Homo sapiens: one gene and its partners. The main gene of each other region encodes a partner of the protein of the gene in region 3 in a complex. Each region holds a gene or a part of one and is shown on either strand. Other genes may lie near its edges.

The links.
Region 1: CACNG1 (region 3) and CACNA1S share a complex: the UniProt entries of both Homo sapiens proteins name them as parts of the calcium channel complex.
Region 2: CACNG1 (region 3) and STAC3 share a complex: the UniProt entries of both Homo sapiens proteins name them as parts of the calcium channel complex.

What each region holds. Positions count from the first base shown.
Region 1 is NC_000001.11:201,039,409-201,046,426, forward strand, and holds the end of CACNA1S (voltage-dependent L-type calcium channel subunit alpha-1S), read right to left. Parts: intron 5,049-7,018; coding exon 4,920-5,048; intron 4,124-4,919; coding exon 3,873-4,123; intron 2,182-3,872; coding exon 2,096-2,181; intron 1,306-2,095; coding exon 1,214-1,305; intron 967-1,213; coding exon 823-966; intron 675-822; coding exon 423-674; 3' UTR 104-422; downstream 1-103. UniProt on the Homo sapiens protein: Pore-forming, alpha-1S subunit of the voltage-gated calcium channel that gives rise to L-type calcium currents in skeletal muscle.
Region 2 is NC_000012.12:57,242,940-57,248,187, forward strand, and holds the end of STAC3 (SH3 and cysteine-rich domain-containing protein 3), read right to left. Parts: coding exon 5,187-5,248; intron 3,963-5,186; coding exon 3,865-3,962; intron 2,273-3,864; coding exon 2,206-2,272; intron 2,027-2,205; coding exon 1,977-2,026; intron 1,684-1,976; coding exon 1,598-1,683; intron 1,428-1,597; coding exon 1,376-1,427; intron 1,287-1,375; coding exon 1,149-1,286; intron 972-1,148; coding exon 873-971; 3' UTR 519-872; downstream 1-518. UniProt on the Homo sapiens protein: Required for normal excitation-contraction coupling in skeletal muscle and for normal muscle contraction in response to membrane depolarization. Required for normal Ca(2+) release from the sarcplasmic reticulum, which ultimately leads to muscle contraction.
Region 3 is NC_000017.11:67,054,537-67,057,397, forward strand, and holds the end of CACNG1 (voltage-dependent calcium channel gamma-1 subunit), read left to right. Parts: intron 1-566; coding exon 567-704; intron 705-1,508; coding exon 1,509-1,735; 3' UTR 1,736-2,261; downstream 2,262-2,861. UniProt on the Homo sapiens protein: Regulatory subunit of the voltage-gated calcium channel that gives rise to L-type calcium currents in skeletal muscle. Regulates channel inactivation kinetics.

The DNA of each region.
Region 1 (7,018 bases), on a different chromosome or scaffold from region 3:
AGCCCAGTCTCCCAAGCCCATGGGCAGGGTTCCTGGGGAAGGGACTGGGGAGGGGGAAACACAGGTGTAGAAGAGTCCAAAAAACTGGACAAGCAGAGGCCAGTTGCCAGTGTCACAGGCCTGGAGATTTTAATGTCCTGCAGGTGGGAGTGGCCCTAGGCCAGACAGGCACTGACCAGGCCTTTTTGAATGACATTAGAAGCTCCATCCAATCATGCCTCTTGCTGGTGAGGGGCAGGGCCTGTCCAGCTACTTCCTCCGCACTTTTTGAGGTGGTTCCTGACCACCCTGCCTCAGGCCATGCATCTAGCTGCTGAGAGGGAGGGAGGCTGCTGCGGTGGGCTAGCCCTTCTCCACCCCAGCAACTTCCCCACCCCCATTGGTCATGCCAGCTCTAAGCCCATGCTGATGCTGTGTGGGCATCACAGCCTTGGAGGAATAAGGGTCTCCTGGGAGCCCTGGTGTTGGTCGAGGCTGCCCAGGGAGGACCCGAGGTTCAGGCATCCCAGGGAGCTGGCCATGCCCTCTGGGGCCTCTCGTCCTTTCAGTAGCTCTGTTGCCATGATCTCCACTTCCTCTGGTTCCATTTGGCAGGCATCTGCCAGGGCCTGGCCTGTTGCCATGATGAAGTTTGCATCAGCTGCCAAGGTGCCCAGGCCCCCTCGAACCAGAGCCTGCAGGGAGGAGAGTAGGCTGAGTGGGGTCTTCCTGGGGAGCCACATTTGGGGACCTGCCTCTGTTGGCCCTACCCTCTCTCCACGCCAGGCCATCACAGGGCCACCACTCAATGCAGCCACTGCTGTGACCCAGCCCCTGGCTCACCTTTTGGATCAGCAGGGCTGTAGCTGGTGCTGAGCACCTGGAAGTATTCTCCCTGGTGCTCCTGCTGTGGGGTGTCTCCTCATGAAGAGACCCTGGTGTGGAGCTCTTTCTGTCCTCAGGCATGGAGGACTCCACCCTGGGGCACTGTTCCAAAGGTACAAAAGCAAAGACCCCGACAGGGGTGCTGGAGCCCACCAATGAGCAAAATTCCAGATCATCTGAGGGCAACTCAACCAAGATCCACAGAAAGGGGAGGATGGAGGGATCCCGTCCCTTCTGTACTGTTGGACACATTGCTGCCACAGCCTTCCCCTGCCATGATCCCACTCCAAGTATCAGGCCAGGCAGGGTCTCTGTATGGAGTTTGCTCCCAGGCCTCTGCCACTGTTACCTGGCAGGGGGCAGGAGGTGCCTGGCCTCTGGGCATTGCCCTCTGGGTCAGCAGTCCCTTCAGCATCTCCACACAGGGTTTGCTGTGGGGTCCTGTATGCAAGAAGGGGCAAGGATAAGAGGGGCTGCTGACTCCTGCCAGGAGCCCTGAGTCAACAGAGGCTCGCTTGGCTGGCTAGCCACACTCTGTGAGAGCTCTGAGATTCTCAGGGCTGCAGAAGGTGTCTTAGAGGGTGGACACATGATGAGGCCCAATCAACTCCAGGCCAGGCAGGGCTGCCCCAACTTTACTGGCCCTGGTCGCTGTTCTTGAAGGTTTGGGAGAGGGGATAAGGGCCAGAGTCTCTGGCCAAGCTGGTCCTCTGTGGTCCCTGGGTGTGTGCACATTAAAGTGAAAGTGTGTTGGGGAACACAGCAGTATCCTTATTGCCACTAGCCCCCAGCATCCTTGGGGCTCCTACTGTCACACAGCAGTCTAGGACATACTAGACTACAAGATCATTTGCAGAAGGGCCCCAGAGTCAAGACGTCAGTGTGTCCAGGGGCTGCCCTTCCAGGGACCTGGGGCGGTGTGGGGACTCCTGTGCTGGGGATGGTGTAGGGGGCTGTGTGAGTTTCCTGGGAGGCCTGCAGAGGGCCCTTTAGCATGAATGGGCTTTCCCCCTTCCACCTCACTCAGCCACCTAGATGGTGCCCTGCTTCCCCCCTGGACAAGTAGCTGGTCCTGATGGTTTTCCCATTCCAGGGCCCAGATGACTGCCATTGTAACAGGCTCCCAAGCCAGCCCTCCCAGCCAAGTTCCCAGACTCTAAGAAAAGAGTGGGGCTTCCCGGACTCCTCTGGGAGAAGACTCAAGCTTCTTAGATGCACAGAAGGGACTGACCCAGGACCCTGCAGGGTTGGCCAAGGGCTCGTCCTCTGGTAGCAGGCGTCTCTGTCTCTTCTGGGAACTCCCTTTCATAGTGGACACTGAAATGGAAGCAAGGCTGGGTGAACCAGAGAAGGCTGCTAGCTCTCTCGGCATCCCTGCCTCTCTGGCCCCAAACATCCTTTTCCCTCAGAGCCTGTACAAGGCCAACCTAGTGTAGCAGCCGTGACTCTAGGGCTGACGTTTCCACCACTGTGCCCCAGCCAGCCCTGACTCTCTAGGAGGAAGGAGTCCAGAGCATTCCTGACTCCACTCCTTTGCTCAGTTGCTCCCTCTACCCTTTCTACATTCTGTTCATCTTCCAAGGCCCAGCTGCAGCCTCCCAGCCTTTGGAACCCTGCTTCTCCATCTTGGCCACACATAGGATCACCTGAGGAGCTCAAAGGTGAGTGGTGGCTGAGTCCCACACCCAGCATCTGTGGTGAGGCCCAGGCATTGGGATTTGCAGAAGCTCCCTGGATTATCTAATGCACAGCCAAGGCTGAGAACCATTCTAGGTCTTTCCAGCCCATGGTGATCCATACCCCCTCTGCACTCTCAGGACACTAAATATCTGTTATTATTTGGTGTTTTTTGTTTATTTGTTTTGTTTTGTTTTGTTTTTTTGAGACGGAGTCTTGTTCTCTCACCCAGGCTGGAGTGCAGTGGCACAATCAGCTCACTGCAACCTCCACTTCTTGAGTTCAAGAGATTCTTCTGCCTCAGCCTCCCGAGTAGCTGAGATTTCAGGCATGCGCCACCACACCTGACTAATTTTTTGTGTGTTTTTAGTAGAGACACGGTTTCTCCATGTTGGCCAGGCAGGTCTCGAACTCCTGACCTCAAGTGATCCACCTGCCTAGGCCTCCCAAAGTGCTGGGATTACAGGCATGAGCCACCACTCCTGGCCTCTGTGATTATTTGGTCCCAATCATATCACATAACATATCACCCAACAAGACGACAACCCCCTTCAGGGCAGGGCCCAGGGCTGATGCTTCTGTATTTCCACGTTACCTTGCACCATGGTGACCCAAAAAGGTACATGCACCCTTCAAGGCTTGTGGGCTGAATTTAAGGGGTCTCTGTGACTGGAAGGGGTGCAGGCAGCCCTGGCCATGAAAAGGGGCTGGCTGCTGCCTTGTTCTGCTTATTCCTGAGGCCTGGGGCTAAGCCTTTCCAGGCCGAAGAGGCCTCCAATCAGCTGACCTCCTGTCTAGAACAGAAGCTTTGCCTGAGCCTAGCCCCTAAGTTATGATTGCTGAGAAGTTCTCCCCCTCATCCTGCTGTTTTTTATGACACTTACGTAATCACAGATTATATTTAGTCTACAGCCCAAGGTTGGTGAGATGGGAACCACCCAGCACAGCGGGATCTCCTTGGAACCTAAATCCAGTGATGGAATCTTATTGTCCACAGTCTTTTGTGGTATGTGCTACCACCGAAGATCCTCTCCTAACCTATCATGTGTTCAATACGTCTCAGCTCCTAGACTTGCTGAAGCCGACGGAATAAAAGAACCTCTCAACACTGGGGCCAATACTGACATGATGTGAGGCTTCCCCCTGCTGGCCAAAGAAGCCTCTGCCATCGAGGTCGGCCTCTTACATTAAGGTTCAGGATGGATTGGGGCACAAAGGCAAGCAAAAGACACCCTACAAATTTGGGGTACCCTCTTCCAATCCAACCTGGAACCTGCTGACATTGTCCTCCCAGTACCTCTACACCCAGGGATGGCAGTGGCCGCCACTACCTGGAAAACACATGGCTGTTGCTATGGTTGCTGTTGCCATAGGCGACATTGGCGTTGGCATTGTTGGTATTGGCACGAGCCAGGGGGTTGGTGCGTGGATCTTGTGGGAAGTCCTCCAAGAAGACAGGTGACTCCATCTCTTCCATCTCTATCTCAGCAAACTGGAGGGGTCTCTGATTGGCCATGACGGGGGGCAGGGAGTTGGTCCTTTCCAGGAAGTTGTCCACCTGGCCAAACAGGCCTCCAGTCCTCTAGGGGCAAGGAGAAGAGCAGTGACTGGGGGTGAGGGCAGGGAGGGCATGGGGGGCTGTCACTCTGGGACAGTGGTATTGGGAACAAGCAATAGTATTGGGAGACAAATCTTATAAGGCCAAAGGAGGATGGACTGAGTGGTGAGATCAAAAGAAGAAAATTCCCACCCTTAGAAAGTTCTTTGTTTGATGGGGTAGACAGCACACACCTAAGGAGGTATATAGGGGACACAGGCACACAGAAGAGAAGTGTGGTGTAGGGGAGAGAGGGCTGAATCGGGAGTCTGCAGCACTGGGTTCTAGTCCCCGCTCTGAAACTGATTTACTAGGTGATATTGGACATCTCACATGATCTCTGTGGGCCACTATTTCCTCATGAATAACCCAAAAAGACCTAACTAGGTGTCATTAAAGACCTTCCAGCAATAAAGTGTTATAAGAAACATGAGACAGAGCTAAGGATGGAGGACTGGCCTCAGTGGAGGCAGGCAGGGCATTTGATCCTGGAGGGCCTCTGGGAGATGGGTCGTTGCCTAGGGTTTGTGGGGAGGAAAGGGAAGGGGTGAGATTTGGTAGGGAAATGTGGGAAAGAGTGTGTTGCATTTGACACCTCTAGTAGATCAGGTCATTGATTCTGAGTCCCAGGAGAGGTGGGTGGTGAAGTGGAGAGACGGAGTGGGGTATCTTCAGCTCCCATGTCCCCCTCTCGTGTGGCTGGGCTCCCAGCCCTCCTCTCTGTGAGACACTGCCACTCATGGTGTCTAGACCACTAGGGGTGCTCCTGGCTCTCCCTCACCCGGAATATTCCCTCCTCCATCGCAGCCTCCACCATGGCTCTCTCCAGCTCCTCCTCAGCAGCCAGGTCTCCTGAGACCGTGCGACAGATCTCGGGGGCTGCCTCTTCCTCAATGGTCCGCAGCCCTGCCTGGGGATGACGAAGGGACTCAGTTATCTCTCCAGCCCAGGAGAGGAGACCAGAACCACTTTTTCTTTTTTTGAGACAGAGTCTCACTCTGTTGCCCAGGCTGGAGTGCAGTGGCACAATCTGAGCTCACTGTAACCTCTGCTTCCCGGGTTCAAGTGATTCTCCTGCCTCAGCCTCCTGAGTAGCTGGGATTATAGGCATGTGCCACCACTCCCTGCTAATGCTTGTATTTTTAGTAGAGATGGGGTTTCACCATGTTGGCTAGGCTGGTCTCAAACTCCTGACCTTGTGATCCACCCACTTGGCCTCCCAAAGTGCTGGGATTACAGGCATGAGCCACCGTGCCTGGCTAGAACCGCTTCGTATGGCTTACTTGTTTCTTATCACTGTACCCAGGGCTCTCCCAAAGCCCCAGCCTAGGCCCCACTCTCCCTCTTGGGTTATTGAATATCTCAGGTACCTGAGAGGCCACCAGGTCCTGCTCTGGCCTCTGGGATAGCCCACACCTTAATTGTTCCAATTGAGTCATCTCTTGACCCCATGGGTGGAAATTTCATGCCCTTCCCAGGCTTCCAGGTTGAGAAGTGTTCTTACTCAGTACAGTCTTCTAGATTGGTGATCTTTATTGATTGGATATGTCATATATATATAGTTGAGCAAAGTTAATATCACCAGTAATGGGACAAGTCAAGACTGGTGTCACCTAATAGCTTGTAATGAGAACACAGAATCATTTCTGTGGCATTCTTATCCAAGATGCATATCCTAGTAATCAGACAAACCCCAACTGAGGGACATACTGACCTGCAGTCTTCAAGTGTCAAGATCGTGTCAAGGAAAGACTGATGAACTCTTCCAGATGGAAGAGATGAAAGAGATAAGGCAACTCAATGCACTGTCTGATTCTGGATTGGATCCTTTTGCTATAAAGGACATTTACTGGGACAGCAAATGAAATTTGAATGGGGTCTGAGGATTAGAATGTAGTAATGTATTAGCCTGGCATGGTGACTCACGTCTGTAATCCCAGCACTTTGAGAAGCTGAGGCAGGCAGATCACTTGAGGTCAGGAGTTTGAGACCAGTCTGGCCAGCATAGCGAAACCCCATCTCTACTAAAAATACAAAAAGTAGCCTGGCATGGTGGTGTGTGCCTGTGATCCCAGCTACTCAGGAAGCTGAGGCATGAGAATGGCTTGAACCCGGGAGGCAGAGGTCGCAGTGAGCCAAGATCATGCCTCTGCACTCCAGCCTGGGCGACAGCGAGACTCTTGTCTCCAAAAAAAAAAAAAAAAAAAAAAAAGCATCAGTGTTAATTTCCTGATTTTGTGGTTATGTTGTGGTTACATAGAAGAATTATGCAGGATAACGCCCTTGTAATACACATTTTGCCTTGAATACACACAATGCCTTGAAATATGCATTAAAGTGTTTTTGGATGATGGAACATCATTTTGGAGTTACTCTCAAATGGTTCAGAAAAAAAGGTTTTATATTATACTTGCAACTTTTTAAAAGTATGAGATTATTTCAAAATAAAAATAGCCATTGAAATAAATTTTTGAGCACAGCTCAAATGCATGTGTATTTGGGGGTTTTATAAATTATGTGCATTACAGTGAACCCAAAAATAGAAATAAAACCAGATAAGATAAAACAAAAAGTTCTAAAGTTTTCTTTTCACACCCAATGGGACATATTTATTTATTTATTTATTTATTATTTATTTATTTATCTATCTTTTGAGATGGAGTCTTACTCTGTCACCCTTGCTAGAGTGCAGTGGTGCAATCTCACCTCACTGCAACCTCTGCCTCCCAGGTTCCAGTGATGCTCCCGCCTCAACCTCCCAAATAGCTGGGATTACAAGCGTATGCCACCATGCCCAGCTAATTTTGTAATTTTAGTAGAGATGGGGTTCTACCATCTTGCCCAGGCTGGTCTCAAACTCCTGACCTCAAGTGATCCGCC
Region 2 (5,248 bases), on a different chromosome or scaffold from region 3:
GCGGGTGGGGTTAGGCCCCCGGCCTAGCTAGCTCGGTTCTCGGAGGACTTGAGGAAGTGTTGCCATGGAGACGGCACGCACCCCACCCCCTCCCAGGCCCAGGGTCTCGGGCTTGGTGTCTCTGGTTGTCTCCCCTTACCCACCCTCCACCCCCTCCCCATCCCTCGCTCTCCAACCGAGATCTTGCATCGCCCCCTGGCGGCCTAGCTCGGCGCCAAGCCAGATTCCGAAATGCAAGGGGCTGCCTGCGGCTAAATCGCCAAGAGCAAGGGGGGACTTACCCTACTACAAGATCCTGCTCCCAACCGCTGGGGCGCGGGGGCGGCGACTCCAGCCCTGCGCTCCCCTTTCTTTACTGACTACAGAGGCCTCACCTGGCGGGCGCACTTCCCACCTCCCGCCAACCTCAGCCCAGATGGGTCTCAGGTTACCCGATGGTAACGAGGCGGGACAGCTAGGGAGGATTCTCCACCCCTCCGCAGGCCCTCTCCTCAACCCCAGTTAAATAACAACTTTTCTAAGTTTTGTCAAAAGTTTAATAAATTCGCAACATTCGACAGTTCGCCCTCCCTCGCCCCCGCCCCCCGCCCCAGTCCCTGGCTCCTCCTAGTAGATACGCGTTTTTTTCCAGCTCTTGCAAGCGGGGCCTGAAAGGTTTCGGGTCCGGGCTGCTCTGGGCAGCAGGTATCCGAGGCCCCAGGCTGGGGAAGGGGGCGAGAACCAGTCCCTTCCCGGAAGCCCCGTCGCGCTCAGGCGGGCCTTCCTACCCCTCCTCTCCCAGCAGTCCCGTTGCTTTCGCCCCCCTCCCCAAACTCCACTGGGCCCGCCCAGAATGGGGTGTGGGTGTCTCCCGCTTGCAGGCGCCCGCACGCCTAAATTTCCTCTAGAAAGTCGGTGGGAAACAGCCCCACCTTGCGGCCGGTGTAGACCTTGACGTAGCCGCCCGCTTCGTCTCCTTTCTGCACCACGATCTAGAAGATTAAAGGATCAGAAGTAGGAGAGGAATCAAAGGAAAAGGTAGGAGAGGACAGCAGGGGAGCCGGGGTTTACAGGGGCTCACCCTAGTCTTATTAATGGTTAAGCTCTCCAAGGAGTGTGGTGGGCTAGGGAGCATTCAGGCCTGGGATTGGGTTGGGGCAACAGCCTACCTGGTCCTTCTTGAGAGTGATCTGCCCTATCTCGCGGTTCCCCACGAAGGATCTCGTCACGCGGTGCACACGTTCTCCAGCCCGGACCCGAATGATGAAGTTTGGAGGGAAAAATCCGACCTTCTCCCCGATTTTCCCCTAGGGAAGATAGTAGGGAGAGTCCATCTCTCAATGTCGGGTTCTGGACTCAACCCACACTCCACCCTAGCCCTAGCCATTTCTCTCACCCGCCACCATTCTTCATTGGAGTCATCAATGACTGTGATCTTCTCTCCTGGCCTGGGAGGGGAAGGGAGGGGCCTCACTCACATAGCAGGTCCCCTGCTGTGCCCCGGGTCCAGCATCAATAGGCTCCAAGCCCTGAGTCCCCCCTTTTCCTTTCCCTTGGGGGAACCCAGCTCTTTCCTCTTCACTCCGCAGTACCAGCCCCCTGCCCCAAGGCCTCTCACGGGAAATCCAGATCGTCCTTCTCCAGGGCTTTGAACCGATAGAGAGCCACAAAGTAATGAGACTGCTGGAAGCCAGGCTGCTTGTGCTGGGGGTGCAAGGGAATGATGAGTCTTAGGGCTCCTCTACCCCACACTGAGGGGCAGGATTCCAAGGCAGGGACATTCACCACACACTCTACACTCCAACTCTCTTCTAGGTCCCTGAACTGAGAGAAGTGTTTTGGTCGTGGGTGGGTGTGCAAGTTGATGGAGAGTGTGGGTCAGAAGTGATGGGAAGCCTAGGAGTTAAAGAGTGAGCTTCTGCCAGGGCCATGAGTAGTGGTGTCAGAGCTGGGTTGGGGAGAGAACTGGGTTCCTTGCAGGGAGGAAGGATTCTTACCTTGTCATCAGGTGTCTTCTTCTCAGCCTTCTTATCCCCTTCAGGGTTTCCTGGGATAGGAAACACCAACAAATTGTCTGTCTCCTGGAGGGCAATTCTTATTCTCTTACCCTTTTGTGGAAGGGCCTCGTCTATCCAAAGCTGGCCTGCCCTTTGCTCCTCCACCCTCTGTTCCACAGCTGAGCCTCTGATCCTACTCCATCTCTGGATGGAGGTGGGTAACACTCACCATCCTGGGGTTTGCCTTCCTCTGGTCTGGCCGACTCTGGCTCCTCCTCCATCATGGCTGCTACAGGCTGGAGGGGGCACCAGAGTTAGGGAGACGCTGTCTTGGGAACACATGCCCTGGCTGTCTATAATCAGGTCAGAGAACTATAGAATAATGGGATCTCAGAGATCTCAGAGTTGGAAGAGGCCTTGGAGGAAATATCTAGTTCAGCCATCTGCCTAATGCAGGAACTTTTTTTTTTTTTTTGAGACGGGTCTCCCTCCGTCACCCAGGCTGGAGTGCAGTGGCGCAATCTTGGCTCAGTGCCAGCTCCGCCTCCAGGTTCACGCCATTCTCCTGCCACAGCCTCCTGAGTAGCTGGGACTACAGGCGCCTGCCACCACGCCCGGCTAATTTTTTGTATTTTTAGTAGAGACGGGGTTTCACCGTGTTAGCCAGGATGATCTCAATCTCCTGACCTCGTGATCCACCAGCCTCGGCCTCCCAAAGTGCTGGGATTACAGGCGTGACCCACTGTGCCCGGCCATGCAGGGACTTTCCCTAAAACATCCTATCAGGTGGGTCACCCACATTCTGCTTGAATGTAGCTAAATAACAGGGAATTCACTACCAGATTCCAGGTCCTTGACTATGCTGTCAGCCTTTAAAAATACTCCAGTGTGTAAGTAAAAAGTGAGCAGCATGGTCAGGCGCGGTGGCTTATGCTTGTAATCCCAGCACTTTGGGAGGCCGAGGTGGGCGGATCACCTGAGGTCGGGAGTTCGAGACCAGCCTGACCAACATGGAGAAATCTCCTCTCTACTAAAAATACAAAATTAGCCAGGCATGGTGGCACATGCCTGTAATCCCAGCTACTCGGGAGGCTGAGGCAGGATAATCGCTTGGACCCGGGAGGCAGAGTTTGCGGTGAGCCGAGATCGTGCCATTGCACTCCAGCCTGGGCAACAAGAGCGAAACTCTATCTCAAAAAAAAAAAAAAAAAAAAAAAGAGCAGCACAATTTTTATAATTCCCTTAAAAGAATATAACCCAAGAGTATGTTAGCCCTTCTGGAAGCAGCCATATCACATTGCTAGTGCCTTACAAGTCATTAATTCACTCCATAGAAATCCCTTATCTGTGTCCAACCTCCATATCAACAAGTTTGAGGCCAGATTTCTAGTTGTTTTTTGCAGTTGATTTTTTTGATCAGATATGTACATTTATCTTTTCTTTTCCCTTCCTTCCTTCCTTTCCTTCCTTCCTTCCTTTTTTTTTTTTCTTGACAGGGTCTCACTTTCTCCCCCAGGCTGGAGTGCAGTGGCTTACTGCAACCTCTGCCTCCCGGGTTCAAGCGATTCTCCTGCCTCAGCCTCCCAAGTAGCTGGGATTACAAGCGAGCACCACCACACCCGGATTTTTTATTTTTATTTTTGTATTTTTAGTAGAGACAGGGTTTCACCACGTTGGCCAGGCAGGTTTCGAACTCCTGACCTCAGGTAATCTGCCCACCTCGGCCTCCCAAAGTGCTGGGATTACAGGCGTGAGCCACCATGCCTGGCCGAGTTTTGTGCAATTTTAGGGGAAGACAATCCATTACTTCTGTCAGCTTTCCAAATGGGAAAATGACCTGCTCCATGGGATCTCTGGGAGGGACCTCGTGGGGAGGTACAGTGCTCACATTTTTCTTATCTGCCTGTCCCTTCTTCCGTTCCTTGTTTGCCATGATCACCCCAGTGCGCAGGGTTTCAAACACAGGATCATTGCGATTGGCAGCAGCTAATCGAATGGGAGGAGAAAGAAGACATTATTGGGAAGGCAGAGAAAGGCTTGGAGGAAAGGAAGGGAGAGGTGGGATTGAGTAGATGGATACCCATGTGTGTGTTGGGTGGCGGTGGGGGCGCCGCGGGGAAGATTAGGGAAGGGTCAGCTAGGCAATACCCAGGACACCAATCTATAAAGGACTTTAAAAACATCACTGGTGATGTAAAGTGAGGGAGGAAAGTATTTATTAGAACTCCTTCCAGGCAGAGCATTATATGATGTTTGAAACACAACTTTGCTTGCTTGGGAGCTGAGACATGCGCAGAATCACTATTCTCCTTCTAAGGAGAATGGGCCCTTAACTGCTGGCTTTTGTTCTGCTAAATGGCATGTGTAAGCTGAGGTGCTGCCACCAATAGGTTCTTCTTTTTCACCCATGCTCTTCACAGAGTTCAGCCTCTCCTCCAAATAAATGTTGAGCAAATTTGTCAATGAATATGTTTTTAAGGGTTGCCAAATTATTATTATTATTATTATTATTATTTTTTTTTTTTTTTTTTTTTTTGAGACGGAGTCTCGCTCTGTCACCCAGGCTGGAGTACAGTGGCACAATCTCGGCTCACTGCAAGCTCCGCCTCCCGGGTTCATGCCATTCTCCTGCCTCAGCCTCTCCGAGTAGCTGGGACTACAGGCGCCTGCCACCACGCCCGGCTAATTTTTGTGTGTTTTTAGTAGAGACGGGGTTTCACCGTGGTCTCGATCTCCTGACCTCGTGATCCACCCGCCTCGGCCTCCCAAAGTGCTGGGATTACAAACGTGAGCCACCGCGCCCGGCCTGGGTTGCCAAATTATGAACCTGCCCAGGGTGCCTGCAGCCTTTGGGTCTTGCCCCGAGTCTGATATGACTCTGTAGTAAGGATGAGGACAATCTAGAATCCTTGTTCTTGCTTAGAAATGATTTTGCACACAAAGAGCACAGATTCTGAAGCTAGCAACTGAAGATTCCAGTCTTGGCTCTACCTCTTGCTAACTGTATGTAGTTGCAACTAAATCGTATCTCCCTCTGCTGTAAAATGGGGATATTGCCTCTGCATCCAAATGGATATAAAAATGTGAGGTTGAGGGAGAATTATGGGAAACAGAAAGTTTCTGTTTCAGAATTTGGCTCCCAAAGCTAGAGATGGCATGAAACCATCTCTAGGCTTGCCCATTCCCTCATGTTCCATAAAGGGCACTTACAGAGATCTTTGACACAAGCGTACTGCTGGTTGCTGTAGAGTGGGGAACTATAGGCCCGATGG
Region 3 (2,861 bases):
GTCGGGAGTACAGACCCGTGCCTGCCTGCGCCCAGACAGCTGCACACAGGGTGAGTGGGCAGACACACAGACACACACTGACACACACAGACACACACAACACAGATACACACACACGACACACACAAGACACAGACGCACAGAGACACTGACACACACGCATGATGACACACAAAATGACACACAGTGACACAGACACACACTGATACACATGCATGATGACACACAAAATGACACACAGTGACACACACAGACACACACTGACACACACGTACAATGACACAGACACAGAGACACACACTGACACACACGTACAATGACAGACACAGAGACACACACTGACACATATGCATGACACACAATGACACACACAGACACTGACACACACACAGATACACACATACAATGACACACACAAGACAGACACAGAGACACACACTTGACACACACACAATGACACACACAGACACTGACACACACACTGTGGTGCATGGTGTGGTCCCTAACGAGCCATGACAAGAGCTCCCATGCTGAGGCCGCATGCTGGGTGTCCCTTGTGTTTGCAGAGTACAGCATCTCGGCAGCCGCCATCGCCATCTTCAGCCTTGGCTTCATCATCCTGGGCAGCCTCTGTGTCCTCCTGTCCCTCGGGAAGAAGAGGGACTATCTGCTGCGACCCGCGTCCATGTTCTATGCCTTTGCAGGTAGACTGGGGGATCTGCCTGAGCGCCGGGGCCGGGGGACCATGTCGCGGGGGATTCTCCGCTCCACCCTCATGCCCACCGCGAGATTTGGGTGAGGGGCATTTCCCAGGCTCCATCCCCATCCAGGGGCAAACCTGGCCAGGCCATCAGCGACTCCAGGTGGGTTGGAGGGAGACAGAGCTTGGCGGTTTGTCCATTCCTCTCCACGACTCAACCCTCAAGGCCCCAAAGAAACTGCCCAGAGAATGATTAACAAAAGAAGGAAAGAAACGTGGTCACCTTTCTTTCTTTTTCTTGGGGGATGAGGAAGAGGGTCTCGCTCTGTCATCCAGGCTGGAGTGCAGTGGCACAATCACAGCTCACTGCAGCCTCGAACTCCTGGGTTCAAGGGTTCCTCCCGCCCCAGCCTCCTAGTAGCTGGGACTACAGACGTGCACCACCACACCTGGCTAATTTTTCATTGTATTTTAATTTTTTGTAGAGACGGAGGGCTCATCACTATGTTGCCAGGCTGGTCTCAAACTCCTGGCCTCAAGCGATCCTCCTGCCTCAGCCTCCCAAAGTGCTGGGATTACAGGTGTGAGCCACCACACCTGGCCACATGGTTGCCCTTCTGAGGGATGCAGGAATAGGGTGGTGGGTGGACAAATGGATCCTTCTGCAGGTTCCCATCTAGAACCTGCCTTGAGGCAGCTTTTCCCCCAAGGCAAGGTCACCGCCTCCTCCATGCACACAGGCTGGGATGGGGCTGGTGGCTACGGCAGACGCCCCTCGGTCCCTGAGCATGCCTGGCTCTGCCCCCAGGTCTCTGCATCCTCGTCTCGGTGGAGGTCATGCGGCAGTCGGTGAAGCGCATGATTGACAGTGAGGACACCGTCTGGATCGAGTACTATTACTCCTGGTCCTTTGCCTGCGCCTGTGCCGCCTTCATCCTCCTCTTTCTCGGCGGTCTCGCCCTCCTGCTGTTCTCCCTGCCTCGAATGCCCCGGAACCCATGGGAGTCCTGCATGGATGCTGAGCCCGAGCACTAACCCTCCTGCGGCCCTAGCGACCCTCAGGCTTCTTCCCCAGGAAGCGGGGTCTTGGCCTGGAACCTTCCAGAGAGGAGGCGGGAGCAATTTTAGCCCCACCCTGCTCCCATCTGCCCCCCTGCAACAGTCGCAGGCTGCTTCCTCTCTCTGAGTTCCTCTGGGCTGCCGCAGGCTCCCCTGGGAATAGAGCAAGACGTGAGTCCTAACCTGGCCACAGTTGGGGGAGGCAGAGCCAGCAGGTGGACAGGTGTTTGCAGGGGCCCAACTTCCCCTGGAGCTCAGAGGTGTCCCCACTGTACCAGCCTCTGATAAGCTGCCTCCAGTTGTCCTTTATGAACATTGCAGGGACAACCTGTGTTTGCCAGCTGGGTGTTCCGTGTAAATAGCCAGCCTGTCTCTTTCTCGGTGATAAAACACACCCTCTCTGGTGAGCCCAGCGTCCCCTCCTTGGCTTCCAGGAGCCCTGGGAAGCATTTTTAACTGGGTAGAATCTGACTGTGGCTTGAAATAAAAAGCTCTCAGAAAACTCATGCTTTCCTGGAGCCTTGCATAGAAATCGCTCGGATTCCCAGTCACATCAGGGGCTCCCCTGACGCCGAATGAGAAGGAAAGGCCGGTCACCCGGGTATGTTGAGGTCTTTTGTGGGGACAAGAGGGCAACGCACGTGGCTTAGAGGCTCTGAATTCCAACTCGTATCTCTAGGCCCTGAGATTGTTTTCGGGAGAAACTAGAAACCCTCTGATGAAGCAAGGGTGTTAAAAATAGGAGGGGTTATTTCTAGAGCCTGGCATGCAACGCACCTGGTGCCAACACAGCGCTAAAGCAGCCAGCCAGTGTCTGATTTCTGATGTTGGATTTTTCTTGTGAAGAACATCAGGAAGCAGGGCTTAGCAGTTAGACACTTAGGGCCACATGGAGAGCCATGATTTGCACTCTTCTGCCTTCCAAAACCCCGCAGTACTTGCCCAGGCTTCCAAAGTGGAGTTCAGACATGATCGGCAGATGGGATCCTTGCCTTGCACCCCGGAGAACCCACTGGAGTTCACGCTTCTAGGGCAGGGTTTGGCAAACTATGGCCCATAGGCCACACCTGGCCTGCCCCCTCTTGCTGTATGGCCCACAAGC